Homo sapiens: one gene and its partners. The protein of the gene in region 1 interacts with the protein of each later gene in a pairwise test. Each region holds a gene or a part of one and is shown in the gene's direction. Other genes may lie near its edges. The genes, in order: BCCIP, PDGFB, CPAP and CCDC33.

The links.
Region 2: the proteins of BCCIP (region 1) and PDGFB interact in binary tests that used the Homo sapiens proteins (3 or more experiments, as listed by UniProt).
Region 3: the proteins of BCCIP (region 1) and CPAP interact in binary tests that used the Homo sapiens proteins (3 or more experiments, as listed by UniProt).
Region 4: the proteins of BCCIP (region 1) and CCDC33 interact in a two-hybrid assay, tested with the Homo sapiens proteins (3 studies listed by BioGRID and IntAct).

The regions. Positions count from the first base shown.
Region 1 is NC_000010.11:125,831,829-125,837,051, forward strand, and holds the end of BCCIP (BRCA2 and CDKN1A-interacting protein), read left to right. Parts: intron 1-1,943; coding exon 1,944-2,118; intron 2,119-4,275; coding exon 4,276-4,446; 3' UTR 4,447-4,723; downstream 4,724-5,223. Other genes in the region: putative pre-mRNA-splicing factor ATP-dependent RNA helicase DHX32, read right to left, coding at 4,859-5,027. UniProt on the Homo sapiens protein: During interphase, required for microtubule organizing and anchoring activities. During mitosis, required for the organization and stabilization of the spindle pole.
Region 2 is NC_000022.11:39,234,097-39,242,813, reverse strand, and holds part of PDGFB (platelet-derived growth factor subunit B isoform 1 preproprotein), read left to right. Parts: intron 1-1,686; exon of another isoform or gene 1,687-1,801; intron 1,802-1,904; exon of another isoform or gene 1,905-1,941; coding exon of another isoform or gene 1,942-1,959; intron 1,960-6,939; coding exon 6,940-7,036; intron 7,037-8,717. UniProt on the Homo sapiens protein: Growth factor that plays an essential role in the regulation of embryonic development, cell proliferation, cell migration, survival and chemotaxis. Potent mitogen for cells of mesenchymal origin.
Region 3 is NC_000013.11:24,918,793-24,927,705, reverse strand, and holds the start of CPAP (centrosomal P4.1-associated protein), read left to right. Parts: upstream 1-4,844; 5' UTR 4,845-4,945; intron 4,946-8,913. UniProt on the Homo sapiens protein: Plays an important role in cell division and centrosome function by participating in centriole duplication. Inhibits microtubule nucleation from the centrosome. Involved in the regulation of slow processive growth of centriolar microtubules.
Region 4 is NC_000015.10:74,238,670-74,247,386, forward strand, and holds part of CCDC33 (coiled-coil domain-containing protein 33), read left to right. Parts: intron 1-5,315; coding exon 5,316-5,479; intron 5,480-8,717.

The DNA.
Region 1 (5,223 bases):
ATTTAAGTGATATATAAGTAGATAATTTCATATAGACTTTGCATCCCCATTTGATTGAAGTTTTTCACCTTCACAGATAGCTTTCTGCAACATGAATAAAATAATGAACAATTACAACAATAACAAAACTGGTAAAGTTCCCAAATTCTATTGGTATGTTTCATAACAAATGAAACCATAGTCCTGATACTGTGGCTAGCTTTTCAGGGTTTTTGTTATTCTATTTTTTAATCCAGAAGTTTTAAGTTTACAAAAATATTTCAAATGTAGCTGTGAAATCTAGCAAACTGAGTGTACTAAGAATTGTATTGTCTGTGCTTTGCAACAGAGGACAAAATATAGGCAGATTCTCTTATTTATTTCTATCTAATTTAAATTTTTTTTTTTTTTTGGTAGAGACAGGGTCTTGCTACATTGCCCAGGCTGGTCTTGAACTCCTAGGCTAAAGTGATCTTCCTGCCTCGGCCTCCCAGTGTTGGGATTACAGGTGTCAGTCACAGCACTTGACCTAGACAGGTTCTTTATAGAATATTCTTTCTCAGAGGTCATAGCCCTTGCGTTGTGGTTTTCCTTTAAATAGCTGTAGGAATGCAACTCTACTCTGGAAACCTTTACGTTTGCTGTTTTTTCCTAGGGATTCGATGCTTCTTATCTCCTGCTCCCTGCTCTCTCAGCTGTAGCTCAGATTGTGCTTCTGGTGCCTTAAGTGGTTTTTGTTTTTTTTTGGTTTTCTTTTTTTCTGATCAGCTGGAGCTCACATTTATTTGGTTTTATAGGAGGGTGATTTGCTTTCTCCTAGTCCTGTTAAAGCTGAAGTGAGCCAAGCGCAGTGGTGCACGCCTGTAGTCGCAGCTACTCAGGAGGCTGAGGCAGGGGGAATGCTTGAGGCCAGGAGTTCCAGGCTGCAATATACTATGATTGTGCCTGTGAATAGCCACTGCACGCCAGCCTGGGCAAAATTACAAGACCCTATCTTTTTTTTTTTCTTTTTTTTTTTTTGAAAAGGCCAGGTGTGGTGGCTGACACTTGTAATTCCAACACTTTGGGAGGCCGAAGCTGGCAGATCACTTGAGGCTAGGAGTTTGAGACCAGCCTGGCCAACATGGCGAAACCCCAATTCTACTAAAAATACACCCACAAAAAATTAGCCGGGTATGGTGGTGCAGACCTGTAATCCCAGCTACTCAGGAGGCTTAGGCACGAAAATCGTGTGAACCTGGCAGGCAGAGGTTGCAGTGAGCCGAGATTGTGCCATTGTACTCTACAGCCTGGGCAACAGAGTGAGATTTTGTCTCCAAACGAAAAAAAGAAAAAAAAAAAAAAGGAAAGCTGAAGAGGACGGTTGTTCTGAGTTTCTTCTTTTGTTCAAGGGCATCCAGATGCACAAGGCTATGTTTAATTTTCAGAAAGAAGAAACATTAAGGCTTTGTTGCGATTCCATTGCTAGAATTTAGGTTGTGTGTTTATGCAGTTTCTGCAGTATGTCAGAAATTAGTTCCAGACTCTAGCAATTAGAGACTGTGGTAGTAGTCACAGGCTGTAGTGACATTGGTTGTGGCTGTATACCTTTGTGTGTTTCAGTTAAATGTTCATTGCTTTAAAAAATTCAAAAATTCAGATTCGTATATATTTTTAACTTATGCACAGGCAGAGCAGTGATACATTGAGTGAATTTGAGACTCATCTGATCTGTTAGTTGCTATATATCCACAAATCAGCATAATCTGAGAGATATATCATAGTATTATAAAAAGTAATACATAATCTAAAATGCAACTGATTATGTAAATAAAAATCATTCCTGTAGACTAAGTGTTCAGATTGAATGCCTGCGTCACAGCAGAACCCACTGAAGATGCCTCACCGGGTTTTCTGTGCTCTGGTTTGTTGATGGATTTCACTTGACCCAGCAGGTAAACAAATGTTGTGTGTGTGCCTTGCAGGAAAGAACTGGCGGGGGCACACAGAACCAATAAGCCATGTGGGAAGTGCTACTTTTACCTTCTGATTAGTAAGACATTTGTGGAAGCAGGAAAAAACAATTCCAAAAAGAAACCTAGCAACAAAAAGAAAGCTGCGTTAATGTTTGCAAATGCAGAGGAAGAATTTTTCTATGAGGTAAGACTATCCTGCTTATTTGTTTAGATGTAAATAAGGATTTTCTTGAAAATGATTTATCAAGATTTATTGTTCTCCCACTTTAGGTCCAAGTCTTTCAAGTGTGGCTACTCTGTTTTTCTGTTTCCCCACAGGACCTAGCAGCTAACATAGTGCCAGGTGCATAGTAGGTACTCAGGAGGCTAGGCACCAGCCTCCTTGCCTGCACTGTGGTTATGAGCATGAGGAGGAGGAGGAGAAAAGTGATTAACCTGTTAAGAATGATTAGGCATTTATAATATGCTTCCTGTGAAATCTTTCATTCTAAAACCATGCGGAGAGGTAGACATTAGCCTGGGGTTTACAGATGTGGACTTTAAGGCATAGGGAAATGAGGGAAATTACCTGCGATCACACAGCTGGTCAGTGTGGAAGCTGGGGCACCCCTGCTGCTCTGTGTCCTTAGTCGTGGATGTCATCCTGCTGGTGGGATATCTCCAGCATTTTTTTCCTATAAAGGTAGCTTGTACTGTGATGGACAGCCATATACCAGAGAATATTCTTACCCTCTCTTCCTCTGAAAAATCTTGAAGTGGGCCAGGTGCGGTGGTGCACACCTGTAATCCCAGCACCTTGGGAAGCTGAGGCGGGCAGATCACCTGAGGCCAGAAATTCAAGACCAGCCTGGCCAACAGGGAGAAACCCCATCTCTACTAAAAATACAAAAAAAAAAAAATTAGCCGGGCATGGTGGCAGATGCCTGTAATCCCAGCTACTCGGAAGGCTAAGGCAGGAAAATTGCTTGAACCTGGGAGGCAGAGGCTGCAGTGAGCCGAGATCGCGCCACTGCACTCCAGCCTGAGCAACAAGGAAGAAACTCCGTCTCAAAAACAAACAAACAAACAAAAAACACAAAAACATCTTGAGCCAGGCACGGTGGCTCACGCCTGTAATCCCAGCACTTTGGGAGGTCAAGGCGGGTGGATCACGAGGTCAGGAGATCGAGACCATCCTGGCTAACATGGTGAAACCCCGTCTCTACTAAAAAATACAAAAAATTAGCCGGGCGTGGTGGCACGTGCCTGTAGTCCCAGCTACTCGGGAGGCTGAGGCAGGAGAATGGCATAAACCCGGGAGGCGGAGCTTGCAGTGAGCCGAGATTGCGCCACTGCACTCCAGCCTGGGCGACAGAGCGAGACTCTGTCTCAGAAAAAAAAAAATCTTGAAGTGTATCTCTGAGGGGAACATATTTTCCTGAATTGGATGATATCACATCACTTTGAAGACTTCTGCAGAAGACTAAAGCGCTACAAATTTAGCTGTGCCCTTCTTTTCCAGGAAGTAAATAGTAAACATAATTTTTAAAAAACATAGGCCGGGTGCGGTGGCTCATGCCTGTAATCCCAGCACTTTGGGAGGCCAAGGCGGGCGGATCACGAGGTCAGGAGATCAGACCATCCTGGCTAACACGATGAAACGCTGTCTTTACTAAAAATACAAAAAATTAGCCAGGCACAATGGTGGGCACCGGTAGTCCCAGCTACTTGGGAGGCTGAGGCAGGAGAATGGTGTGAACCCGGGAGGCAGAGCTTGCGGTGAGCCGAGATCACGCCACTGCACTCCAGCCTGGGTGACAGAGTGAGACTCTGTCTCAAAAAAAAAAAACAAACAAACAAAAAAAACAAAACCATATGCTTCAACACCTCAGGTTGACCATTTGGGGGGAGTGTGTATGGGTGTTTTAAGATGGCGGGGTATGCAGATTTACTCTGTCTTCACACAAAAGCCTGATGCTAAGGAAGCAGCTGAGAAAGTGAGAAAAGAGTGTTTGAAGACAAGTTCTTGTTAAATATCAAATTTTACAAGTCTTAATTTCATTATGTTTCACAAGATTATTTTGACAATTAAATGAAAATACCACTTAGCTGCTTGTTCACCTCTTAGAAATTGCACACCTCTATCCCTGTTCCTCATGTGGGTTTAAAATCTACTTGGTTTGTGTTTTATAACTTCTGCCTGAATGTCCCATTTGAACTTTTTCAATTCTGAGTTTTGCTTTTTTTTAGCTCTCATTCTTATTTAAGCATATGCCAAACGTAATATTCTTTGCCGTAGATCAAATGGGTTTTGTCTTTGGGTTGTCCCGATTTTTAATTCATGGTTACTTATTTGGTTTAGAAGGCAATTCTCAAGTTCAACTACTCAGTGCAGGAGGAGAGCGACACTTGTCTGGGAGGCAAATGGTCTTTTGATGACGTACCAATGACGCCCTTGCGAACTGTGATGTTAATTCCAGGCGACAAGATGAACGAAATCATGGATAAACTGAAAGAATATCTATCTGTCTAACCCATTTCCAATGGACAGTGATGGGCTTGTTTTTGTAAAATTACCAGAAAACTCAGTGGAGATTTACTGAAAAACTCAGACTTTATTCAGATTAAGTTCCTCTACAAAAAGTAGGGTTCTGTCCCATGTGTCTCTGACACATTTACAAAATACCAGTTTTTTAAAATTTTGGTCAAATTATGAGTGGTTGATTTAAAAACTTTTCCAAGAAGAAGAAAAGCATGGAGTAGTAATTTAAAGAACTCAATAAAAACTTCTATTTTTTATTTTAAAATAATATACACAGTGTTATTTTCTTCAAGACCGTCCTGTGGATGTGAAATCCGTCTTCGCGTCATGTATCTCCCATATCCAGCAGTTCAGCCATCCAGCTACCTTTGGGACCCTGCTGCACCTTGTGTTTGCTGGGGAGTCACTGGAGAGTGCATCTCTGTTCAGTTTCAGGGCACGTCTCACACATTTGCTGTTCCTTATTCATTGTTGACACAGGGGATAGGTGATCCACTACTTGCTGTAGAATGTCCTTACTTTCACTAGGAGGCAGATTACTGAAATAGTATTGTGGTACCAGCTGCATAAATCTGTTTATTTAAGACAAAAAGATGAGATTATGAGTGGGGAAGGTGGTGAGAGACACCAAACATTATGTCTGGGCACTTCCCATCCCTGGAGAATCTACCTGTAGAACCGGTATTTAATTTGAACTCAGATAGTATCTCAGTCCGACTTTGTAAAATAAATACTTTCTGTTTTTTATGCAGCCAATCCTGTTGCATT
Region 2 (8,717 bases), on another chromosome or scaffold:
CCGCACCTCGCCCGCACCTCGCCGGCTCCCGGGGAGGGTCGGCCCCTGCGGCCTCCAGCCAGGCGCAGGAAGGAGGCAGCGGCGGCGAAGGGGTTAAGGCGGAGGGCTCGGAGGCCGCGGCCCGGCCTTGGGCTGCCGCCAGCGCAGGTTGTTTTGACCACGGAGGAGCCGTCGCCGTCTCCTTTTGTTCTCGGGGCTCCTCGAGGGCCGCAGGCCGCCCGCCCGGGGGCCCCGCCCTTCCGCGGCCGCCCCCCGCGGCCCGCACCCGGGAGGGAGGACGCGGGGCTCGGCCGGGCCGCCTTCAGGCCCCTCCCGACGCCCCCTCTCCGCCTCTCCCGCAGCCCCCCGGGCCGCGGCCAGCTGTTGGGGAGGGGGTGGCCGGCCGGCCCCAGCTGCCGCCTCGCCTCGCCGTGGGACCTGGGGGCTGGGCCCGGTGCCAGGGCGTCCTGGGAACGGCGGCGCCCCGTGGCTGCTCTCCGCAGCCCACCCCGCCCGGGCCCCCGACTCGCTCACTCACCCCACGCATGCACACTCCTGGCCGGAGGCGATGCTGCGCTCCGGCGGGCGGGCGCGCAGAGCGACGGGCACGCACTACCGCGGCCAGGTCGCGCGCCCGCCTCTGCCACGCCCGTGCACACGCGGGACACACGCGCGCGCACCGCACACAAACGCACGCACGGCCCCTGCACGCGCGGCCTGAGCACACGTGCGCGCACACCCACGCACGTACACAGGCACGCACGGGCCCCCGTGCACCCAGCGCCTGGTGCTCGCCCCCGCGCAACAGGTGGGCCCTCCGTGGGCCCTGGCACCTCACCACCTCTGTAGCGGCCCCATTTCCTTCCTGGCGTCCTGTGAGGGAGGGAGAACCTCCCATCAGCACCACAGCACCTACTTTTTTTTTTGCCTCGTCAGCCCGACGCCCCTCAAACCTTACCCATCTGTGACTCCTTTTTTTCAACCACCTCCGCGTGGTGGAAAATGGTGGTGATGTGACTCTGAGGGGCACTGAGCTGTCCAGAGCGATTCCCCCTTCACATAAGCCTTCATTTGAACCTGCAAGACTGGAGGGACCTGGCGTGTGCAACCGCGGAGGGGGCTCCCACCCCTGGCTGTTGCATTCTCTTGGCTGATCCCAGCGTGCCCCGGGGAGGCCGCTGACAGCTGGATGTTTCCCCAGCCTCCCCTTACCATTTCCAGCTTCGTCCAGCACCTCCTCCTTCTTTCCCACAGCTCCACGGGCTCGTGTATCTGGGGTGGAGGCTGTGGCACAGAAACTGCCTTTCTCCTCACTTTAGTCACAGCATTCTTGAACACATGGCCACAGGCGCGATGTATGTGGCACTTTGCAGTTTATGAAGCACTTTGCTGCTAAGCCTGAGTGAGCCTCAGGCTGGCCCTGGGGGAGGGGACCTGCATGGGGATGGAACCACGCAGGGGTCAGTCCAGGAAGGAGCTGTAATGGCCAGTGCTGGGAGAGTCAGGGCAGGCCTGCTGGTGGAGGTGGCCTTGGAGCTGTCCACGTCCTGGTCGTGCTCGGACTAATCTTTCAGCAGACGGCAGGCAGCCGTGAGGCAGGGCTGGGTGGAGGGCCTGCCGAGGCCTCTGAGGTGCCATCTCCACCAGCTGAGCTGGCTTCCAGGAGGGCGAGTCCCACTGTCACGTGACGCGTCTGGCCTCAGCACACTTCTTCCGGGAAAGAGTGAAGGGCCCCACTGCCCTTTGCCATCCAGCTTCCTCTGGCTTTGCTAATGGCCCTAGGGGGCAGGAGACCAACTGCTGGAATCCCAGAGCCCTGGAGGTGTGCAAGGGCAGGTCAAACAGAATTTGGAGGATCTGGTGCAAGAGCCAGGAAGAGAGAGAGAGAGAGAGTGTGTGTGTGTGTGTGTGTGCGCATCTGAGAGAGAGAGAGAGAGAGACTGACTGAGCAGGAATGGTGAGATGTTTATCATGGGCCTCGTAAGTACCTCTCCACGTCTTGTCTTCCCCTCCCCACATTGAGGAGCCTCTTCTGTGACAACTCTTCCTATGTTCTGGTTTATTTCATTGTTTATTACCTGCTTTCTCTACTGGAGTGTCAACCCCATTAGAGAGCTTTCCTCCTGGTCCCCACTTTTAGAACAGTGCCCAGAGCCCTGTGGACAATCAGTAACTATTAGTGCAAAGAACAGTTAGTGCTGGGTTGGTGGGGAGGGCAGGACCTGGCCCCCTGTTGCTCCATGGCCCCACTGAGTCCTCGCTTTGCTCTGCTCCGAGGGCAGCCCCCCTTTTCAGCCCTCTGGTAGGCATCAGTCTTTCAAAGCCCCCCATCTTGAGAGAGAAGCATGTCTGTCTCTCCTCTGTCTTGGGACTTGGGCTACCAGGATTAGACAGGACAGAGGAGAAGAAACAGAAAGAAAATCAGACTGCAAAGGTTCTGTGTATCTTTAGCTGGGGCTAAGTTTCTGCCACCTAAAAAAAAAAAGAGAGAGAGAAGATTGGATTAGTGCAGAGTTCCCAAAGAATGGCAGAATCCCCTGGCCCCGTCCCCTGGCTGGGATGGGGATGGGCAGTGATTGCCGTGGTTGCCAGTATTATAAATGGCTGGACTGGTTCCTCTCTTCCTGCTTTAATTTTCCTCTGCTCCTGCAAGAGGTGGGGAGGCCAGGGTTCTGGGCCCACGTGAAGGAGCAGAGGCTGAGCGGGAGGGTCCCAAGAGCAATAAAGAAGGGGAATGCTAGGTGGGAAACACTGGTTCTAATGGCTTCTGTGGTTTGCCCCGAGAGGGCTTCTTCAAAGGGGTTGGTTGGCTTTGGCATTCGATCTAAATAAGGCCTGCGACTCTCAGGCAGGCAGGCTCTGGGAGGCCTCATCAGCTTCTTCCTCTGCCAGCCACAGACAACGCCCCTGGTTGCTTGGGCCTGTGTGTCCCTTGGTGGGAATGGCAGGCGGGCCGGGGAGTGTGTATCTGTGTGTGTGTGCTGGGCCCAGGAGGAGGGTGGGGTTCAAGCCCCTTTGATCTGCCAGCCTGGTTGGGAGCAGATCACTCACCTGGCCTCACGCTCGCTCGTGCCCTTCCTACCTGCTGCAGCTGGCGCTGGGGGCGGGGTCGGAGGAGGCTGTTTACCTTGGCTCCCACGGCTGGCTTTGCCCCAGCTGCCTCCTCGCCACGCCCTCACTCTGCCAGAAACCCCGGGCCTGAGATCTTGGGACAGCTTCTTCAGGGTGCCAGGCCTCCTTTCCCATCTCTGAAGTGAGCTGTCCACCTGGAGGCCTGCGGAACCTGTGCCCAGGAAAACCAGGCTCCGGGCGGCTCACCTTCCCATACCAAGAAGAGCCTGTGACTCCCAACAGGTGCTCATGCTCGTCATCCCCAGAGCATTGCATCCTGGAGCTGAGCACGTGCTGAGTGTCCCCCCACCCTCACCCACCCCCAGCCCCGGAAGGGCCTTGTAAGCCCACACGGCCCAGGCTCTGCCAGTGTGGAGGTAGGGTACCATTTCCTGTGGCCCAGCACAAGGGATAATGCAAAGTCACGCACTCTTTCATGGGCAGGCAGCTCTCCACCCACTCCTTGTCATCCTCAAAAATGTCCTGTGCTGCTGGCCCTGAGCACGTGTGCCACTCGCTGCTGCCCACAAAGGAGCCATCCGGAAAGAATTAATGATGATGACAGTGACAACTCATTAAGCTCCCATTATCTGCTGGCAGCTCTGCTCTGTGCAATTATGCCTCCCAGTAACCCCGGGCGAGGTATTATTAGCCCCATTTAAAAGATGCAGAAGCCGAGGTTTTAGATTGTGACAAGATTCCAAGAATCCAGGTTGCCCTGGCATCTGGAGCCCTTGCTCTTTCCTCCGCTACAGGGTTTCTCAGCCTCTGCACTCCTGATGTTTGGGAAGGCCGTCCTGTGCCCTGAAGGGTGGTGAGCGGCATCCCCGGCCTCCCCCAACTTAAGATGCAGTGCACACCCCAAGTTGTGGCCACCAGCGATGCCTTCATACATTGCCACTGTCCCCTGGGGGCCCACTGGGCCCTGGTTGAGAGCCTCTGACGTGGGACATGCTGCAGAGTAAAGAGCCAACACGAACCTTGTGTGATGCTGAGGGCCAGTGGCCTTAGAACACAGGAGAGGGAGGCTGAGACGCCCCATGGTGGGCTGGAACAGGTGGGCAGTCTGGAGCCTGGGAACGACCCAGCTCTGCCACTTGCTAATTGTCTGGACCTGTTGCTGCTTGTTTAATTTTTTCTAAGCTTCAGTGTTCTCATCTGGAGGATGGGGATACAAATACTGCCAGCCTCTTAGGATTGGTAGTTTATACGGTGTTTTTCTCAGCGTGTGGCTTGTAGCTGGCATTCATAGATGTTAGTTGTGGTATTATTACCAAATCCGGGGGCTTATGGGTAGTTCTGGGCATCTAGTGGCCACATTACCAAAAGCATCTTCAGGGACGGTCTCCCTGCTCAGATTAAAAGGGACTCTAGTTGCTCATTTGCCTAGGGTTGGGGAAGAATATCCCAGGTGGCCCTCCTGGTGGAGGAGGCAGAAGAATCATACTGGACAGAACCTGGAAAATGGTAGACTCCTTCATGCATTTGACCAGTATTTACCGAGGACCTACTATGTGCCTCTCTCTCCTCCTCAGACCCTATCCTGGGCTCTTTCACACTCAGCCTTGGAGGGGCATCTCCTATGTGTCGTGGGCCTGGATCTGGGGTGTCCACTCGGCCTGTTCAGGGGTCTGCCTCCTCTGCCGTGGCTGGCAGCTGCAGCCGGCTCTCCAGTGGGCAGGGAGATCTTGGCACAAGCACTAAATGCCATTTGCTACTAGGCCTTTGGGCCCCTCCCCTGGGGGGTTAATTGAATCTTTACTCCACAAACGCTTCTTGTTCTCCTTCTGCCAGTGATCCAGGGAGGCCTGGCTAGGCACCCGGCTTTGGCGTTTTCTCTGCCCCTTCTAACGCCTCCTGGCAGAATTAGAATTGAATCGAATGTTCTTCAAGCCCCTCGATTCACAGATGAGAGCCAGGACCATAGGGGCAGTGACCAGCCGAGGTCACACGGCAGTTGGTCCAAAGGCGTGGGATTCAGCTCTCTGGCCTGCCAGTTCTGGGTTTGACAGAACTCTCAGGGGAAGCGGCTTTCGCTGGTGTTCACTGGAGACCAAGCCCTCTGTTCTGTGGGTTGGGTACTTTGTCAACATTTGGAGAGCACCGGAGGCGTGGTCTCTCTTCTGAGGTGGAAAGAATGAACTTGCTTGAGGGCGGGAGGAGGCAGAGCCCGGAGGAGATGGGGCCGAAAGTGAGGGGCAGCGGGGCCCATACCCTCCTCTGTCTTGCACGTGCAGCCCCTGGCTGCCCGGATATTGAAGGAAAGACCCTAGTTCTCAGCCAAGCCCTGCCACCTTTTTTTCCTCAAGTTGCCCAGCAGCCCTTAGACATTGGGCGGAGTTGTAAGCTCCATGTTCAAACAAAGACATGGAGACTCAGGGGTTTCAGGGAATGATGTAGCTTTAAAAGTGGTCACCCCCACCCCCCGCCCTGAGTCTTCTGGCTCCTGGATCGATGTGGGTGGCCAGAGTTGGTCATGGATGAACCCCTGGAGGTGTTGCTAGACCTCATGATAAGCTGGAGGAAACAGAGCTTTCGGGGAGAGCCCCCTGAGGCTGGCCACAGGGCTGAGACGACCTCTTCTCCTCTCCCTCGCTCCCCCTCCGCCGTCAGGCAGCGAGAAAGCAGCATCCCTTTTGTGAAGGTAGCCTGCACCGACCCCCTCTGAGCCCCCCGACCTTCGGCTCCGGGAATGTGGAGCGAACCAAGAAGGGAAGTCCTCCCTTCTTAATCCAGGGAAACTGAGGCAGAAAATAGTTTAACCCAAGGTTCTATAGTAATGTGCCAAGCCTATTGATGCCCTCTCCAGGACTGTCTGTCCAGACCGTGCAGCCCGAGTGCCTGTGCCTGCACGTGTGTGTTTGCACACGTGGAAGTCCGGTTCCAGCCTTTGAACGTGCAGCGACATCTTAGGAATTTTCTTTGCTTCTCAGTGGCTGGTGGTCTGGATTGTGATTCTCAGTCTCCCATCTGCCCTCGCCTCTTTCTTGGGATCTCTGGCATCCGCCCCTTGGGTCTCCTGGGACTGTGGGGGACGTGGCTGTGACCTTCCTACGGGGCTGCTCTTGTGTCATTGTGGGACCTGCGGTTTCCCTGGAGGAAGCCCAGCTCCGAATGAGGCCTGTTGAAGTGTTATCAGGTTTCGAGTATGTTTGGCAACAGGCCAAAGGGGCTCTAAAAATAGGGTTTGGTTGGGCACAGGGCACGGGTAAGCTTTCAGGTTTCCCGGCCGTGTCCGAGGATTCCCTTTTCGCCTCTTTCGAGTGAGAGACTTCATAGATACCGCTAGGACCTGGGGCCTCCTGAGGCCATCGCACTCTGCACGCGTTTATTAAGCACCTCTTGTACCCAGGAGCCTGGGAGTACAGGCTCTGTCATCCCAAAGGCATGGGTTTGAATGCAGCTTTTGCCAATAATTGAGCCTCTCTTTGAACGTTTGTTTTCCCCTCTGTAAAATGGGGGTTAGATTGGCCATGGGAGATGCTGGCTGTCTTCAGCTGTCAGGTGTGTTGTGAGACTCAGGGAGAAATCAGATTTTGGTGCATTCCCAGAACATGTAGTTTGGTGGGGGAGACAGACATAGAGACAAGCAGGTCCAACTCAAAGCAAGCTGGGGTTCCTGTTGGGGGTTGAGGGTGCAGGGACTGAGCTGGGTCTCAGAGGCTTCGGCAGGTCCAGGCCCCGAGGCCTTTGTGCTCCTGATCATCAGGCCTGGATCCTGCCTGTCCGTCTCCCTGTGACCTTGGAGCTTTCCACAGGAGAAAGCGAGAAAGCGTGTGGTGGGGGAGACAGCCATGCTGGAAAGCCCCCACTCCCAGCTCACTCAGCCTTTTGGTGTCTGCCCGGCAGGGGGACCCCATTCCCGAGGAGCTTTATGAGATGCTGAGTGACCACTCGATCCGCTCCTTTGATGATCTCCAACGCCTGCTGCACGGAGACCCCGGAGGTAAATGGAATCCTCGCCCCGCGCTCCGGCCCTCCGAGGAGACTTTAAGAGATCTGGGAGGGGCAGGACAGGAGGCATCCCTCCTTCTTGACGTCTGGAGAACTAGAGGCCCATGGCAGCCCAGAGAGAGCGTGGCCACACCCATCCAGGGCAGGGCCGAGTCAGCAGGCGGGTTGGTACCTGGGACTTGGGGTGTGGCAGGAGAAGCACCCACGTGTGGCTCCGGCTTGGTGCCAAGGGTGGGGTGCCAGGAGGAGGGAGGGCGGGGAGAAGGTGCCCAGGGCATCTGCCGAGTATGTCTCCAGGTGTGGGCCCAGCCAGGGAGGGTGGCACTGGAGGAGTCATCTCCCCGCCCCTCTGGCTAGGGGCCCGGTCTGTGAGGTCCCCTGGGGACACCTGGCCTCGACCAGCAGGCAGCCCTGCCCGTGCCCCAGAGCTCACTCAGCGAATGGGCACGTGCTCGGTGGCACACACGTGGCGGGGCTGGCGGGCTGGATTGACAATGTATTTATAAACGCTGTCTTCAGAGCAAATTCCATTCTATTCTAACCTCTGGCCTGTTCCCTGGAGCCCTGGTCAGCAGCCCCCCTGCACCCCCAGGTCCCCTTCCCTCTGGGGTTCTGTCTCTTTGTCACTTTGTAATCCTTGCCCAGACGCTATCTACGGGGGAACAGCATTTCCTGCCTTTGTTTCCTCTCCCCGTTGGGCCCCTGGCTCCCTCTCAAAAGCATTCCCGGGCCCTTTCAATCCCGCCTGTGCTGGGGGGCGGTGAGGCAGGCAGGAGGGGGCCCCAGCTGGGCCCACCTATTGTTCGCCAGGGCCCCCACCCGATGTCTCCCACAACCCCCACCCTATGCCCGACTGGCCGCCCCTGGCCACACACAATGGGGCAACTTCCAAATTTAGCCTTTCTACCATTTCTTTCCAAGCCTTTACACCCCCACCCTCAGACGGCCCCTCCACACCCCTGGTGGGGGTCGGGATCTTGGAGATGAGGTTTCAATAGCAGGCCTGTTTCAAGGCAACCATGTGGCTATTTTTTCCTAATCAACTTAACCTTTCCACAAAGCGCATCTTTTCCCCATCTCCTCCCCACCAGGGACATTCCAGAGATGGCAGGGAGAAAGGAAAGGAGCCAGAGGGACAGATAGGCTCGTTGACGTAGGGGCTGTCAGGCTGGACGGAAGCGGACTAGTCATCAGACTCCCTGCAGTACCCGGGACGGACAGGCGGCAGGCGCCTTTGTCTTGGATGGGGCCAGTGGGTCGGTGCCAGAACTGGAGCCATGGGGTGCTGTGTGGAGGTGGCAGGAGCGTGTTCCCAATGCCCCTTAGTTTATTTGTGGCTCCTCACCCATGAGAGAGACAGAAGGGTCTGTCCACGCCTTAACATCCAGCTCAGAGGCCTCCCTCAGCCCTCACTTCCCAGCAGCCAACCTCTGGCCATGGGCTCTGGAAAGGACCGATGTCTCCAAGGAGGGCTGATGGGACTGAGATGGTGCCCAGGCTAGAAAAGGGAGCTGTCATTTGTGACCAGAGGAATCAACAGACGGCTGGGGGCAGAGGTGGGGCAACAGTTTAGAGAAGGGGAGGGAGACAGACACAGATACAGATACGGTGTGAGGGCCCCGGAGCTAGAGAGACCAGGCCCTAGAAGGGTGTGTGGCAGGGACTCCCCACCC
Region 3 (8,913 bases), on another chromosome or scaffold:
TACTGACACATGGTAGGACTGTTCAGCATTCCTTGGGGAAGTACTTTCCAGTGAAATCAGGGAGCTGGGCCTTCATTATTGATAGCTGGTATTGTAAACGTAAATTTTTCTCTGTCCTGTTTTGCAAGGAGAATAGTATGAAAGCAGTCTTTTAAGTCAATAATGACTCAAAACTCGAGGAATCACTGCGGGGGGAAGGGAGCCCCTGTGGAAGGGGCCCCATAGGTTGCAAATTAGCATTGATAGCCTGTAAGTCATGCAGAACTCTCCATTTACCAGACTTTATGGGAATGACAAAAAATGGGTGAATTCCAAGGGCTGTCTGCTGGTTCTATATGGCTGGCTTTTAATTGTTCCTCAATTAATTCATGGGTTTGTTGTAATTTCTCTCCCTTTAAAGGTCACCGTTCTACCCAAATTGGATCTTGAGACAGCCATGTCAGGGGTAGGGGAGGACTTACAACAGTGGCCACTATTAGAAAGGGCTCTGCATAGTGACCCCCCCATTGGGCTAATAAGGTCCCATTCCCAAAGATGAACAGGGATGGGCATGATTAGAGGTTGTATAGTTGCTTTTCTTCCCTCCAAATCGTGACTTTAGAGGGCGTGCACTCTGCTTGGCTGTGTGCACTTCTCCAGTGCCGACAATTTTCTGTTTCTGAGTGACCCATATGTTTTACCCAGCCAATTGATTCTGGTTGGTTTGTCATTCACACAACTCATCATATTCTGCCATCCAGAGGAGGTATTGACTGGCCTCTAAAGTTGTTTGAGCTAGCACTGACCTGTCCCATGGGATCATAAGGAAGTTGTCTGCTATGGCCTCAATTAATCCTTTTGTAGATGGGCTAGCAGCTCTGTTTTCTCTAATGCTTTTTCTTATCTCTTTATAGGTGTTGAAAGTGATGGGCTCATATACCTGATTGCCGTGTTGATCTTGCATCACAGGGCAGGCCAAGAGCTCCCCTTCTAATGCCACTTGCCTAAGACAGGGTCCCGTAACTGTAGTGTATCCCTTGTCTTTTTTTCCAATTTATTGGAGGAGGGGGCTCAGGGAAACTCTGTCTCCTCTGTGGCACCTTTACCTAGTAACAGTGGGGCTGAGGGAGGAGGAGGCGGTCAGGTAGGTGGATGGTTCCTCTTCCCTTTCCTTTTTAGGCTCTTTTGTGTAGAGTGGGGCCAAAGCAGCCCTGATTAAGGCCCATAACGTTAAAGATGTTACTGGGACCCGTTTCCCTTGTGCATGATGTTATTTAAGATTTCCCCTCACTTGCTCCCAGAGTTCTTGGTCTAACGTGCCTTCTTCTGGGAACCATGGGTTATTGAAAACAACAGTTTGCATTAGGCCCCTTAACTGAGCCTCCGAGACCCAGGCTCTGCTAGCTTTAAGCAGCTGTTTCAATACTTACATATAGTGTTGCTGTTGAGCTGATAACTGTTGTCCCATGATGAAACCCTAGGTTGAAAATTCCCTCAAACTTGGAAATCCTGAGTGGGCACCAATTACTTACTTCCCGCACAGTCTCTTCACCTCATTTTTGGGGGTTCCATCGTGATCTGTTGCAGCATTCCTCACACAGGGCACCAGTTGCTGGGTCTGTCCCACAGACCCTGGCTGGACGATGGATGAAACGAGTACTCAGACGCAGATATGCAGTGTAAGAGCAGCTAGGGGACTGCTTGGCACTAGCGGCCAAAGAGTGAGCAGGCAAACAGCTGGAGCTGCTTGCTTTTATTCAGTATAGACATAATGCTGAAAGCCTGGAGCAAAAACAATCTGTGGGTAATTAACATTATTGTTCCCCTTTCAGGGAACGGGTCACGCATGTGGATGATCAAAGGTCAGCTCCTGGTCAATGTAAGTAAACAAGCCTATTTACGATAAATTCCCCTATGCTTCCTGGTACCTACTCCTTGCCCTCTGCCTCAGGGTCAGAAAACAGCTGCCTTCAGCTTATTCTCCCTGGAGGCTATGCAGAGGCTTCCGACTTTTCAGAAGGTCTGCTCCTTTCCCTATAGTTTCTCCCACCACTCTGACTGATCTATAGGAATCATTCCTTGGCCAGGCTAGCCCTGATGTCCTCCCCCACTTTTTTTCTTTTTAAGAGTTGGCGGTTTCACTCTGTTGCCCTGGCTGTAGTCTCGTGGTGTGATCATAACCTTCAACTCCTGGGCTGAAGTGATCCTCCTGCCTCAGCCTCCCAAGTATGTAGGGCTACAGGTGCACACCATCATACCTGGCTAACGTTCAAACGTCTAGGCTCAAATTATCCGCTTCAGTCTCCCAAAGTGCTGGGATTACAGGTGTGAGCCACTGCACCTGACATGTCCTCTCTGGATAGAGTGGACACTTGCTACCATCAGACCAGCAATGAAAAGCTGTCAACTCTTTGTCACTCAGATCAACTTTGATTAAAAGAATTATTACCAGCCAAGCACAGTGGCTCATGCCTGTAATTCCAGCACTTTCAGAGGCCAAGGTGAGAGGACTGCTTGAGCCTACGAGTTAGAGACCAGCCTGGGCAACAGAGTGAGACCCCTGTCTCCAAAAAAATAAATAATGAAAAAGAATTATTTCCAAATAATTTGGGAATACAATAAGTATTATTCTGTGTCTGGCACAGCATTTGACAAGACCCACAGAGCTAGGCTTTGGTAGACAAGAGTTCACCAACAGTTAAATTCTTTATAAAGATGAAAACACCTCCTGTTCATTGACTTTTTACTATGTGGAGGTTTTTTGCTACTTTTTCATACATAGTCTTTCTTTTAATGTAATCTTCTTGACAGTCCTATGAAGGTCTCATTATTATCCACCCCTGTTTTGCAGATGAGAAGACTGGTTTCAGAAAAGTTGAGTGCTGAAGACTACAAAGCTGTTTGTAAGTTATCAAGCTAGGATTTGATCCCAGGTCTGCCTGATAAATCCTGGACTCTTAACCATGACATAGGAGTGCCCTCTTGACTCCTATGATGGCATAAAGAATTGTATCAGAACGGGTAATCTGGCATTAAAACCCCTGTGCCACAACCGTTAGTCTAATTTTTCTCTACAGCACCATCTGAAGATGCAACAAGGATAGGAACCACTGATAAGGTAGAACATTTTATTGTCTGGCAGAGTAGAAGATGGAAGTTCCTCCCCACTAGCCTTTCCACCTTGTAATGGATTTGAACCCTTGAAGCTTAGTGGGCAGTTTTGAGAATTACATGGGCTACAGGTGAAAACTTACACATTATAACCTTAATTTAACAGCCAGTTAAGACTTGAGTGTGGTAAAAGATTCATTTATTTATTCAATCAACAAACAATGTGGCACTACATACTATATTAAAATAAAAACATACGAATAAAATATAGGCACAAAAATAGAGGATATTGCGACTATCCTTAAAGATACACATTTTAGGAAGAATGATGAGACTTTTGGGCATGCTTTCAAGCCAAAGGGCTATCATAAATGAAAAGGAAGATTGTTTGGGTCCTTGTCTGGCATCTTAAGTAGCTGTGTGATCTCGGAAGTCTCGGGCTTTAGCTTCCTCACCCACAGTGAAAATTAAAAAGAAAAATTGGGCCGGGCGCGGTGGCTCACGCCTGTAATTCCAGCACTTTGGGAGGCCGAGGCGGGCGGATCACGAGGTCAGAAGATCAAGACCATCCTGGCTAACACGGTGAAACCCCTTCTCTACTAAAAATAAAAATAAAAAAATTAGCCAGGCGTGGTGGCGGGCGCCTGTAATCCCAGCTACTCGGGAGGCTGAGGCAGGAGAATGGCGTGAACCCGGCAGGCAGAGCTTGCAGTGAGCGGAGATCGCGCCATTGTACTCCAGCCTGGGCAACAGAGCGAGACTCCATCTCAAAAAATAAAAATTAAAAAAAGAAAAGAAAAATTGAAAAAAGAAGCAAAACCGAAATCTTGATTTAGAGAAGTAGACTCTTTTTGAAGTAGAAAGCAAAACAAATTTTGGAGGACCAAATTTCTGTGAAATAGTTTTGTCTTTAGCAGTCGTTTGTTTCAGTTATAACGGTTATAAATGGCACTTCATTTGATTTCTTTAAACATTTTACTTGGCCTGCTGTTTAATCAGACATGGAAGCCAGGTATGTAGTACTGTGGTAACTCACGGTGCTGTAACTTCCTAGATTAAAGGGCCGTGGCAGTTAAAACGAAACAAAACAAAAAAATTTCTTGAATTCTGCACTGTCAGTATTCAAACTAGTTTCAGAATCTAATGGACACACTCTGCCAAACCACCGATTAGCCATTTGAGGAGAGATGAAAGATGCCTATTTTTGGAGTGAATTCTCATAGGGTTATTTTCGTCTTACGAAATGGTGTAGCGGACTGCCCTTTTTCTCCTTTACTAAGTCACCTCAGCCAAAGCGGAAAACAAAGAAAAAAACCAAACCAAACCAAAAAAACGACAAAATAGACCGTACGCAAATAGAAAAAAAAAAAACAAAACCCAAAACACCTCCTTTAAGCGTCGGTTGGGCTCTATGTTAGCTTTGACTCTCCGTGCTCCCTGCTTTGCTGGGAACACGGAGATCCATCGCTCCGTTAGGCGTTCCCTTTAGTTTTCTAAGTGTGGGAGCCTGGGGCGACGTCCACCACGGAAGGTCTCTCCCGGAAACGGTTTTCCGCCCCGCCACGCCGCCCGCCTACGTCGACCACTGGCCCGCTGCTGGTCGGAAGGCGGCGCGCAGTCCATCCCCCGCCGGGCAACGCCCGTCGCTGTGGCGTCACTGGGAGTTGTAGTTTCACTGGGCTCAGCGGTGCCTGCGCTTTAGCGCAGACGCGCGGGTGAGATCCTCACTTCCCACAGGACCTCGGGACGGGGGCGGGGCTCCGACAGAGGCGGCGATTGTGGCGGCCCATTTGTAAATGCTGCGGAGATTGAGGTGTCGGTTCGTGCTGCTGAGCTGCCCAGGCTTCACGGAGCGGTAATTTGTGGGCGAAAAGAGCGGAGGAGCTCTTTGTCCGCCGCCCTGCGCCGGAGATGGACGGCGGTGGGCGGGCAGGACTCTGCTCGGACCTCGGGGTTGGCTCGGCGGGGCGAGGAGGGAGCGGGGCGCCGGGACGCGCTCAGGCCCACGGGCGCGCTGAGGCCCACGGCAGTTCAGTGGCTTCGTTCATTCGCGCTGCTTTGTTCTTCGCAGAGCTGGGGAAGCCGGCCTCTCTGGGGTGTCTGTCTCTCTGACCTGGCTGTGGCGGAACTTGAGTTCCTGTGGGCAGCGCGGCAGCCGCAGTCCGCTGGAGCAGGGTGGTGAAGTAGCGTTGCTGGCTGTCCTAAGGGCCGGTCTTGCCCCAGCTTTGTCAAGGGCTTCTCTCTTGAAGCTTCGTGTGGATTCATGGCTTTCAAGAACGTGTTGTATTTTAGGGGACTGCTAAATCACTTCCCAGACCAACTAGTTACTTCTCACGGTCTAAGAGTGGCTTTGAATTTGCTGTTTGTATCCACTCTCCTCCCTCACCGTGCAGAGAATTTATCTTTTTTTCAATACTGCTTTAAAGAATGTTTACATAGCACTTTCTGGAGATTTCAAGGCTGTCAGTTTGTTACATTTTTTAAAAGTTTTATTGAGGTATAATTGCTATACAATAAAAATGGCACATGTTTAAATGCATTCCATTTGATGAGTTTGACATACACGTGCACCCGTGTCCTTCAGATTTTGATATCTGTAAAGTCTGAGTCCACATACTAATCCTATCTCGGCATATATATTATCAATGCTCCCTTTACCAAGACCTCAGTATCAATAATAAGTAGCAGGTTCTGGTGACGCTTTTTTTATACTTCATGCTGACATTAAATATATTTTTAGAATCGCGGTCATGAAATTGAAGGTATAGAAGGTGTGTTTGGTGGGGAGTTGGAGGAGGAGATGCAAAAGTCTGGCTGCTGCATCCCAAGACTGCTTGCACTTGTCAGTCTAGTAGGGAATTTTTCTAGTTTTCCATATTATGAAATGACCTTGTAGTTTGTCTCCCTTCTGAATTTGGATTTCGAAAGATTTTCTGCTAAGGTCATTGAAATTAAGCAAAGTTACGTGGTTGATTTTGAAAAAAAAAAAGTCATTACTTTTTTAGATTGGTTTCCTACTGAAAAACAATTTGCTTAGAAAAAGTTTTTACAAATTATTCAGGAATAACAGATATCCAGTAAAGTGCGCTAATCTTAAGTGTACAGCCTAAGTGTATCCACCCCCTGTATTAACCTTCCCAGTTGTTGAAGTCAAAAATTTGGAGATGAATCTCTTAAGTTTAACGTTTTATTTGGGAAGAAAGAATGGCGGTTCCAGGCGTACAGACCAGGTGGTCTTCAGTATGTCCAAAGAACAAAGAGAAAGCTGGAGGTTTTATAAAAAAGAGAATTGTTATATCTGTCGCTCTTCGAGAAAGTTCATTGGTTCTCCTAAGGTTCTGGGGAGGCAGCAGGTCCTACCGAGTGGGCCATGGTGGAGGGCAAAATTAGTCCTACAATTGCAGCAAGTTACCTCAGCATCTATAGATCAAATTGGTCTCGGGTTACAACCGGCAGTTTCAGCATACTGACTTATAGAGAATTCCATTCTTGGAGCAAAGTTGTGTGTCCTGAGTGCCTTTCCCTCTTGACTTCTTGATTGTTTAGTTGGCTATAAGAATGACTCAATTTGTATGATCAACTTTCACACAGACAGGACAACTCCCATTTTCCTGGATAACGACCAATATGCCATTTATAACTATGGGTTTATTTTGCCTGTTCTTCAGCTTCATATACATGGAAACATGGGCCAGGTGCGGTGGCTCATGCCTGTAATCCCAGCATTTTGGGAGGCTAAGCCAGGTGGATCACTTGAGGTCAGGAGTTTGAGAACAACCTGACTAACATAGTGAAACCCCGTCTCTACTAAAAATACAAAAAAAAAAAAAAGCCAGGTATGGTGGTGCATGCTTGTAGTCCCAGCTACTCTGGAGGCTGAGGTGGGTGAATCGCTTGAACCCGGGAGGCTGAGGTTGCAGTGAGCCAAGATCACACCACTGCACTCTAGCCTGGGCAACAGAGTGAGACTCCATCTCAAAAAAAAAAAAAAAAAAAGGAATCATATTTGTCTGATGTTCACACATCATTATTTATTTTTGTTACTGCCTGTGGCAGCAATTTTTGTTTTTTTAAATGCCTGAATAGCTGTGGTTCTCAAAGTGTGATACAGTGAGAAAATGTACATCACATTGGCATTTTTGTTTTTGGTTATTAAATGGTTGGCAGGCAATCATCTTGTTCCAAGAAAATCTTCAGTTGCAATTAATGGTACAGTAAGCCTTTATACAACTCTTCTACAACTCAACCAGGGAGCGATGGCAAAAACACAGTATCATTATGTTCACTGTCTTCTATGTCTTTTAACAGTTCTATAAACTGGCAGTTGATAGCATTTGTACATACTGAACAATTGTAACAACTATATTCATGATACTATTCGTGGATTATGCTTCAGAAAACCAAACACAAGAATTTTCAATGTGTATTATACAGGGGAATGAATCAGCGAGGGAAACAGCAGTCTCTTGTTGTAAAATCCCATTAAATTCAGATTTTTTGCCTTATAGAATGACACCATCTGTCATGATAGAAACTGATTTTTAGGCTGGGCGCAGTGACTCACACCTGTAATACCAGCACTTTGGGAGGCCGAAGCAGGAGGATGGCTTGAGCCTAGGAGTTCAAGATCAGCCTGGGCAACATAGGGACACCCTGTTTCTACAAAAAAATTAAAAAATAAAAAATAAGCTGGGCATGGTGACACATACCTGTAGGCCCAGCTACTCTGGAGGCTGAGATGGGAGGATCACCTAAGCACTGGAGGTTGAAGCTGCCGTGAGCCGTGATTGTGCCAATGCACTTCAGCCTGGGTGACATTGTGAGACCCTGTCTCAGAAAAAAAGAAAAAAAGTAATGTTTTCATATCTAGCTAAAATTCTTCTGTCAGACATAAAATACTGGGCGCAGGGGCTCACGCCTGTAATCCCAGCACTTTGGGAAGCCAAGGTGGGAGAATGGCTTGAGCCCAGGAGTTTGAGACCAGCATGGGCAACACAGGGGGACCACTCTTTACAAAAAATTAAAAGATGAGCTGGGTGTTGTGGTATATGCCTATGGTCCTGGCTACTCCGGAGGCTTGAGGTGGGAGGATCACTGGGGCCTGGGTGGTAGAGGCTCCACTGAGCCGTGATCATGCCACTGCACTCCAGCCTGGGTGACAGTGAGACCCTGTCTCAAGGAAAAAAAAAAAGATTAAAAAATATCCATGTCACAGGTTCAGTATCAGGCTTTGAATTGATATCATCTCTTTGTAAATTTAGATAATCTGTGAGATAAAACACACCTAAATTGGTGATTGGTCAGTCTCTCATTGCATTACTCAGATAAAGCTAAAGACAAGTGCTTGTAATTTTTTATGGCTTTGAACCTGGATGGTAATAGAAGGGTCTATGGACAATTGTTTGGTCACTTCGTTGAAAATTTTTCACTTTTTAGAAAATATCTTTAACCTTTTAATTAAAATATCTTTTTAAATCTCACAGTGTTCTAACAAAATTTCCTCAACTCAGATAACCTATTTACCTCCTCTTCATCTGAAAATAATTTTCTTTTTTCTTTTCATTTCTATCTCTTTCTCTCCCCTCACCCTCCTTCTTTCCAGGCTTTTTTATAACTGGCCAAAGTTAAAAGGTCAGATTCTGTTCAAAATCATAAAACTTTTTTTTTGTTGGCTATTTAGTTCTGACACAGGTGACTAATTACAGTTGACTCTCGAACAACATGAGTTTCAACTTTGTGGGTTCGCTTATGCTTGGATTTTCTTCCACTTCTGTCACCCTCGAGACAGCAAAACCAACCCTTTCTCTTCCTAAGCCTAGTCCA
Region 4 (8,717 bases), on another chromosome or scaffold:
TTTAATGATTTCTGACTTTTGTGTCATCTTTTGGAATGCTTCTCTGCTCCAAAGAACATAATTCCTCTTGCTGCCACCAATGGATACTCAGATTATGAGTTCAGGGGGGCATCCACTGTGGAGCAGAGAAGGGATCCACATCCAAGGAAGCATGGTTAGAGCACAGCAGAGACAGCAAGAGTGTGGGGTCAGACAGACCCAGCTTCCAGTTCCAGCCCTGGCCTCACTAGCTAAGCTGTGTGCTTTCATACAAGAGGTTTACTTTCTCTGAGTGTGCTTCCTCACCTGTGAAAGAGCTTTCCCCTGGCCGCCATAACTCTCAGGCAAGTTTAGATGTTGAAACTAGAAGGAACATGGGGGACCATTTTTAACTGAAAGTCCTTGTGAAACTGCTGGGAAATAGCCCCACTGCAGTCAAGTAACTTGCCCAAATGACAGATCCGGGCAGCCAGGCACCCTGCCTCCCAGCCCAGCCCCGCTCCAGCTAGTGTGACTTTTCAGACACACGGCCCTTCTAGAGGGCAGAACTGGGCTCAGCTCCTCAGGCCTCCCAGGCTGCTGGAGGATAGGGAGGAGTGGGTGGAAGAGTTTGTCTCCTTCCATCTCTCTCCCCACCAGAACCAAGTTAAGCACCCCCCAACCCACCCGCGGGAGCTGAATTCAAGGACCATTAACTCCCTGTTGTTCCTACCTCCTCCTCTCACCCTAGCCCTTCCCCCCAGCACATGGATCCAAAAATGCCCTAAGTGATGGGCAGTCCTAGTTCCCCTGCAACATCTGCTGGCTAATCCTGGCCTATTGAGGGCAAGGCTGCCTGTCTGTTTGGATAAGGGCACTGGAGTTAGCAGCTTCCAATCTTGCCAGGCCCAGTGGAGTAGCTGAGAGTGCTGAGCTTTGGAATCAGGCTTGCTTCGGTGCTCACAGCCCAGCCTCTCATCCACTGGCTGTGTGGCCTTGGGCAGGTAAACTGGCCAAACCCCTGCCTGGAAAAGCTGCCTGCTGATCTCTGCACCCTAGCAGTGTTGGGTGGGTTAAGTGAGAGGGAGCCTGAGAAGCTGATGGTGAGCATCCAGCTTTGCTCCCAGCCAAGAGGAGGCATGAATTCCCTCCCCAGGGCTCACCACACCCCTACAGATGAGTTTGTGCAAACTGAGAGTTACGGGGGGGGTACCCCATCACCCCCAGTTCCCTACCACTCATGTAACCCAGTATATGCATTTTCTGTTCCCTCATCAATCCTCTAGTGCAGGCCAGGGGTAACAGATGGGTCGAGGACATTGGTTCTGATGCAGGACATCTCTGAGGGAAGCCTGCAGATTCCCATCCAGACATGGGAATAAAAAAGGGATAGCAGGAGGTTAGCAGCCCTGGCCCACCATCCCCCTTCTGGCCTTACCCTTGGCCCCAAGCCTCCCTGGCCCTGGGCCCAGCCTGCCCAGCGGGCACATGCCTGCAAGCCTCACCAGGAGGCGCCAGCCTGGCAGTTGGCCTCATGCCCAGAACTGAAACACAATAGTTCTCGCCAAACTTCCTGCAAGCTTTATTCCCAGAAGGGAAGGCTGTCCCCGAGGGGAGGTGCAGGGGAGATAGAGGAGGAGCCGGTGTGACTCCTGGCCAGGTCTGCAGATGCCTAGTTGGGCTCTGGGGCTGCCAGGGAGCCAATGAGAGCCCCTGGACAATGGTCTTACTCCTGGGCCCTCCCTTTCATGGCCCTAGGGAGCTCATGAGAGGCCCTGTGCCCTCACAGCAAGGTGAATCCATCTAGGAACATGAATCACCCCTCCCAGCCTCACTGCAGGAACTTCAGGCACAGTAACCACTGGAAAGGCTGAATCACAAACTATTCCAGACATTCCCATTGGCCAGGTGGGAAAATCAAGGCTCAGGGAGGTGGTACAGAGAGGTAGGGCCAGAGCTGAGCTGAAACCTAGGTCTTTTTTTTGTTGTTGTTGTTGGAGTCTCACTCTATCACCCAGGCTGGAGTACCATCTTGGCTCACTGCAACCTCCGCCTCCTAGGTTCAAGCAATTCTTCTGCCTCAGCCTCCCGAATAGCTGGGATTACAGCCTCATGCCACCGCACCTGGCTGATTTTTGTATTTTTAGTAGAGATGGGGTTTCACCATGTTGGCCCGGCTGGTCTCGATCTCCCAGCCTCCAGTGATTTGCCCGCCTCGGCCTCCCAAAGTGCTGGGATTACAGGCGTGAGCCACCACACCCGGCCAAGTTGAAACCTAGGTCTTTTTGCCCTGAGGCTGCCAGCCTTACTCCTGTGCCACTAAACCAGGAGAGCAAGGCTGCTGGGGAGTGGGGGGGTCATGGTGGCCTGCATGAGGGTGGATATGGGAGGAAGCTGCCTACCCAGGAGGGCAGGGAACAGCACTCTGGCTGCTCCTCCTCCTTCACCTCCAGGCAGGGGCATCTTCCCCTCCCCTCATTCTCCCCTGACAGGAGCATGGGGGAGAGAAGGAGGGGCAACCCTCATCAACACCTCTGTAGATGGTGACAGGCCCTGCTGGGTCCTGGAAGAGGGTGGGGGTGGCCTCCTCAGTCAGAGGAAGGAGAGGGGGGCCTCTCTGCAGGACTGGCACTTCTGATCTGGGGGGCATGTATTCTCACCTCCTAATTAGCCATCTTGCTAGGCAAGGACCACAGCCTGCACCAGGCAAGCCAAGGGAAGTAGGGGAGCAAGGCACAGGGATGACAGTTCTGGAGTGACACCCAGGGTGGAGCAGAGGAAACAGCTAGGGCAGAGGCGGGGAGGCAGGAGGGAGCTTGGTAGGTGTGAGAAACAGCCAGGAGGCCAGTGTGGCTGGAGCGGAGTGACCCACAGGGCCCGTGGGACAAGATGAGGTCAGTTTTCTGGGCCAGCTCCTGGAGGGCCCCACGGGCCATTGCAAGGCTCTGAGAGAAGCAGCAAGCTACTTCAGGGTTCTGAGCAGAGGAGAGAGAGGGTCTGGGTCCAATCTGTAAAGGCTCACTCTGGCGATTGGATGGGGTGGACGGAGAGTCGGAGAGGAAACAGAACTCCATCAGAGGCGAGTCGGGACATACAGGTGTCTGGGACCTGAGTGCTGACCTGAGGATGCTGAGAAGGGTCAGAGTCCAGATATAGTTTGAAGGTGGAGCTGACAGGATCTGCTGAAGAACTGGATAAGGGATGTAGAGGAAGAGAGGGAAGAATCAGGAAGGACTCCAAGATGTGGGGCTTGAACAACTAGAACAATGGCATCGCCATTAACTCATTAACGAGTTGGGGCAGACAGCAGGAGGAGGGGTTTGAAGGGGAGTCCAGAGTTCGTTAGCTTTGAGAGGCCAGTAGACCCCCAAGGGGAGCTGTTGAGGGGGTGTGTGGCTCCGATTGGTGGGCACCCCACGCTACCGTGAGAAATGGATGAAATAACGTTCCTAAAACTCCTCGGGGCAGAGCAGAGCCTCAGGCACTGTGCCCTTTTCTTTCTGTCTGCCTGAGGCTTCCAGGAGCCAAGGCTCAAGGTAGGAGCAGAGCAGCTTCCAGATAGGTCGGTCCAAGTCCTCATCTCCCCACTGGGGAAACTGACTCTCAGAACATGGCTGGCTTTGGGGCCCAGCATGGTGAGAGGCAGAGCTGGTTTAAACCTACCTCTCCTGACACTCAGGGCTCCTCAGGAGCCGGCCATTCTGAGCCAAGGACCCAGCCTGCCGAGGCTGCCACCAAAACCAGAGCCCGTCCAGGGCCCAGGTCCTTGCTCCTGTCTGGGCCTCAATTTCCTCTCTATGTAATAGGACATTGTTCTCAACCCCACCCAACCAGGGCCTGCCCTGGAATGCAGGGTCTGACAGGCTGAGCTTTCCAGAGATGAGGAACAGCCTGCCAGTGGCCCCTCAGGGCCCTGCCTCCACCCTGAGGAGGTCCATTGCTCCTCTCCCAGAGCCAGGAGTGCCCCTCTATGGCCCCTCATATCAGCTGGAGGGACAAAGGGTAGGCAAGACCTCCTACCACGGGAGGCCTATCAAGGGTTAATCTGTGTCAGATTAACTGGAAGTGGTGAGTCAGCCAGCCGGCCAGTGGAGGACCAGGGCCAGGGAGGACAAGGACACCCCTGAGCCACAGCAGCCTCATGGCCACACCCCTCCCCACCCCACCGCGTTTATATGCCCAGCTCTGCCGTCTTCTCTGAGTCCCCACTGCCTCCCCAGTCAAACTGAGCCACCTCTGGGCCTTGGAAAGCTCTGCCCCTTCCCGCTTGCTGCCTTCGCTCCAGTGTTCTGCTCCTGGCCTGTCCTCCCTGACTCCACTCCTGCACCTTCTCCCAACCCTTTAAGGCCTCCTCCTCCCTGCTGTCTTCCCTGACCGCCTCAGCCGGCCAGGGCTTTGTCTTCTCTCAGCAGCTCTCGTTAAGATGGTCCTTTGGGCCATGAATCCACAAGTTACTAAGCTGCTGAGTCCCTGCTTGGGGCAACTGGTGTAGGAAGCCCCCTGCATGGGCAGGCACCTCTTCCTCCCTAGTCCGCAAGTTTCCTGGGTAGAAGACAGGTGGGGCATCTGGGACAGACACATGCATTCACCTCCACGTAATGCACTGAATGCCCCCATGAACGTGGAGAAGCTTTGTCAGCTGTAAAGTGCTGTGCACAGGAGGGACCTGAGGTGATGGGTGAGCTGAGGTGAGGTTACAAGATAGACTGAAGAAGGTGGCCCATTGTTAGGACTGCAAAAGCAGGTGGGATTTAGGAATTACAGACGAGGACACCTGCGAAAGCTAAGGCTTAGAAGTGGGACCAGACTTGAAAGGTGAGGTGGCCTGTCTCATCCTGCAGGAAGGGTAGGATCCAGGACTAGAGGAGAGGCACTGAGAGAGACGTGGGATGGGGACAGAAGTAGGGAGAAAATGGGGCCAAGGCGACTGCCTTGCAGAGTGGGCGGAAGGGTGACAGAGGGAGGCAGGCACTTGACGGAAGCTGTGAGTGGCTAGTGCTAGAGGGTGGCAGTGAAGGGAGGTGCCGCAGCAGAGGAGGCCACTCAGGGCCAGGTGCAGTAACTCATGCCTATAATCCCAGCACTCTGGGAGGCCGAGGCAGGCAGATCACCTGAGGTCAGGAGTTTGAGACCATGGGGAAATCCCGTCTCTACTAAAAATACAAAAATTAGTTGGATGTGGTGGCACATGCCTGTAATCCCAGCTACTGTGGAGGCTGAGGCAGGAGAATTGCTTGAACCTGGGAGGTAGAGGCTGCAGTGAGCCAAGATGGCACCACTGCACTCCAGCCTGGGCAACAGAGCAAGACTCTGTCTCAAAAAAAAAAAAAAACACTCAGCCCTGGCTCTCCCCACAGAACACTGAAGACCCAGAGGAGCCCCTGATCGCCTCCCAGAGCACGGAACCTGAGATCGGTCACCTGTCTCCCTCTAAGAAGGAGACCATCATGGTCACCCTCCATGGGGCTACCAACCTGCCTGCCTGCAAGGATGGCTCCGAGCCGTGGCCCTATGTGGTGGTGTAAGTAGCTGCGTGAGAGTGGGGGCAGGGGATGGGTTGGGCTGTGAGCAGAAACCAGGGGACAGCTATTTGGAATACTAGCACCCAAAGGCCCAGGACTGGGACTGTCATACCCAGAGGGGAGGAGCTGCTGTGGGCACTACCTGGCATCTCCGCTGCTGCATGGGAAGCTGCTCACCAGGGCTGGGGAAGACAGGGTGCCAACGGATCCAGAGAGTCACCCCTCCCCACCCCACACCAGTGGGGCAGGGATTGGTCACAGCTCAGCTCCAGTGGGGCAGGTTCCTTGTATGCAAAAGTCTGGGCTGGGCTCATGGGCATGATGGTCAGATTGGGGAAGGGGAAGATTTGGGACCTGCCTCTCCTGACTTCTGGGTGCCCCACCCCACCATACCCAGCCCTGGGGTAGGGTCCTCATAACCACCCTCCCCTCCTCCCCTCCTTCTCCAGTCACTTCTATTATGGGGACTCCCCTAGTTCTGGGCCTTTAATGCACCCCACACACCCCCTCCAGCCAGCTGCTGTCAGGGTACACACTTCCCCAGCCTGGCACCAAGGCCTGCCACGCCACGTCTATGCCCACCTCACGGGTCTCACTTCTTCCAGAAAGGCGCCAAGGGGCAACACAATCTCCATCCAGCCAACCTTCGCTGGGGACACTGAATATTTGCTCAATCTTTATTATAAAGCACCCTCCAAGGAGCATGTCACCCCTAGACCTTCTATAGACAGACGGCGGGAGCCTTGGTGGCCTCCCACCAAGCCACCCTATACTTCCCCTCCCCCACCAATACTGGCACCATTCAGTTCCTGCCAAGAGTCTGTTGCCCACATTTCCTTTTGGGGAGTGCCTGCCCCAGCCCACTCACCAATGCCTGCTGAAATCCTGCCTTCAAAGCCTCCTCCTCCAGGCAGCCACCAGAGTTGAGCTCTCCCTCTTCTGGAGCTCCACAGCAGTGGTGACCCTGGTCTGAAGCACTTTATATCAACATGGTTTATGCACTCCTCTGGGGCTCCCTGAGGACGGATCTCCTCCTCCATTTCCCTCAACAATGCATCCAACATAGGCCTGAGCCCAAACTTAGGAGCCAAGGAGTGACTGAGGCCAACACCTGGTTACTATGATAAGTCCCTGCCCCCCCAGGGCCCCCACTGTGAAAGGGGGGTAGAAGCTGTGCCGAGAGCAACAGGTGAAACACTTGCCTTAAAAGCCCCATTTGTGCCAGCCCAGCTCCTCGGCCATCCCTCCCCCAACTCCATTTCCGTGGTGAGGGAAGCACAGGTGGTGGGAGCAGGCTTGGCAGGGAGGCTGGTTTCTAGCGGGGAGCTCGCCTTCTCCGCTCAGCTATTTCCATAAACCAATTATCGCCGATCATCTCGGGAGATTGAGGCCCTGACTGTCACCAATCCGGCCTGGGCGGCGGGGCGGGGAGCTGGGTGGCTGTGTGGCTCCTAGGCAGGCACCGCGACCCGCGCCATCACCCGGTTGCCATGGGAACGCGCGGCAGGAGCCTAGGCGACACGAGCCTGGGTGGGGGTTCGGAGAGCCGGGCACACCCCGAGTCCTCCTGCACCCTCCCTGTGGCTGCGGCACGTGGGGCGGGAGGGTGGGGACAGAGAACGCGGGGAGGGGGGAGGGGAAAGCACTTCGCTGCACCCTTCTCCAGCTGGGAGCAGCGCCCGGGCCAGGCTGCAGCCTGCGTCCCAGGGCTCCAGACAGGCGAAGCTGCCACCAGCTCGAGGTGGTGCTAATGAGATGCAAATGATGGGAGAAGGAAGGGCTTCTGAGAATGTGAAGGCCGAGCTGTCAGGACCTGAAGGGGGCTTTCAGTGCTCACCCCCAGCCCCAGGCAGAAACCCCAGAGGGAGGATCCAGACCCTCAGAGGCCATAGAACCTGGAAAGAATTTATATCCCTGCACATCTGATTACAAATAAACAAGTAACAAAGCACACAATAGGCATAAGAAAGTTCATGAAAGTTTTCGTTTTGTTCATGATGAATATTTCAATGCTTTTTAAAAATATGTATTTGTGAAGACTTCAATGTAAGACCTGCAACTGTAACACCCCTAGAAGAAAACACAGGGGAAAGGCTCCTTTACATTGGTCTTGGCAATTAATCTTCGGATATGACACCGGAAGTACAGGCAACAGAATCAAAAATAAGTGAGACTGCATCAAACTGAAAAGCTTCTGCGCAGCAAAGGGAATAATCCACAAAACAAAAAGGCAGCCTATGGTATGGGAGAAAATATTTGCAAAACATGTATCGGATAAGGAGTTAATATCCAAAATATATGAGTAACTCATACAACTCAATAGCAAAAAGACAAGTAACCCAATTTAAAAAATGAGAAAAAGACCCGAATAGACATTTTTCCAACAAAGAAATACAAATGGCCAACAGGCACATGAAAAGGTGCACATCGCTAATCATCAGGGAAGTGCAAATCAAAGCCACAAGGAGATAGCACCTCACACCTGTTAGGATGGCTGTTCTCAAAAACACAAGAGATAAGTGTTGGTGCGGGTGTGGAGAAAAGAGAACGCTTGTACACTGTTGGTGGGAATACGCAGTAAAATGGTGCAGCCATTATGGAGCACAGCACGGAGGTTCCTCAAGAAATTGAAAATAAAACTACCATATGATCCCGCAATCTCACTACTGGGTATATATCCAAAGGAAACAAAATCAGTATTTTGAAAAGATATCGGGCCGGGCGCAGTGGCTCACGCCTGTAATCCCAGCACTTTGCGGGGCCGAGGTGGGCGGATCACAGGGTCAGGAGTTCAAGACCACCCTGGCCAATATGGTGAAACCCCATCTCTACTAAAAATACAAAAATTAGCCGAGCGTGGTAGCAGGCACCTGTAATCCTAGCTACTAGGAAGGCTGAGGCAGGAGAATTTCTTGAACCTGGGAGGCAGAGGTTGCAGTGAGCCAAGATTGCGCCACTGCACTCCAGCCTGGGCAACAGAGCGAGACTCCCATCTCAAAAAAAAAAAGTAAAAGAAAAAGAAAAGAAAAGATATCTGGGCCTGGTGCAGTGGCTCATGCCTGTAATCCCAGAACTTTGGAGGCTGAGGCAGGTGGATCATCTGAGGTCAAGAGTACCCCTATATTCATTGCAGAATTATTCACAATAGCCAAGATATAGGATCAACCTAAGTGTTTGTTGATGAATGAATGGATAAAGAAAAAATGTCATATATATATATATACACACACACACACA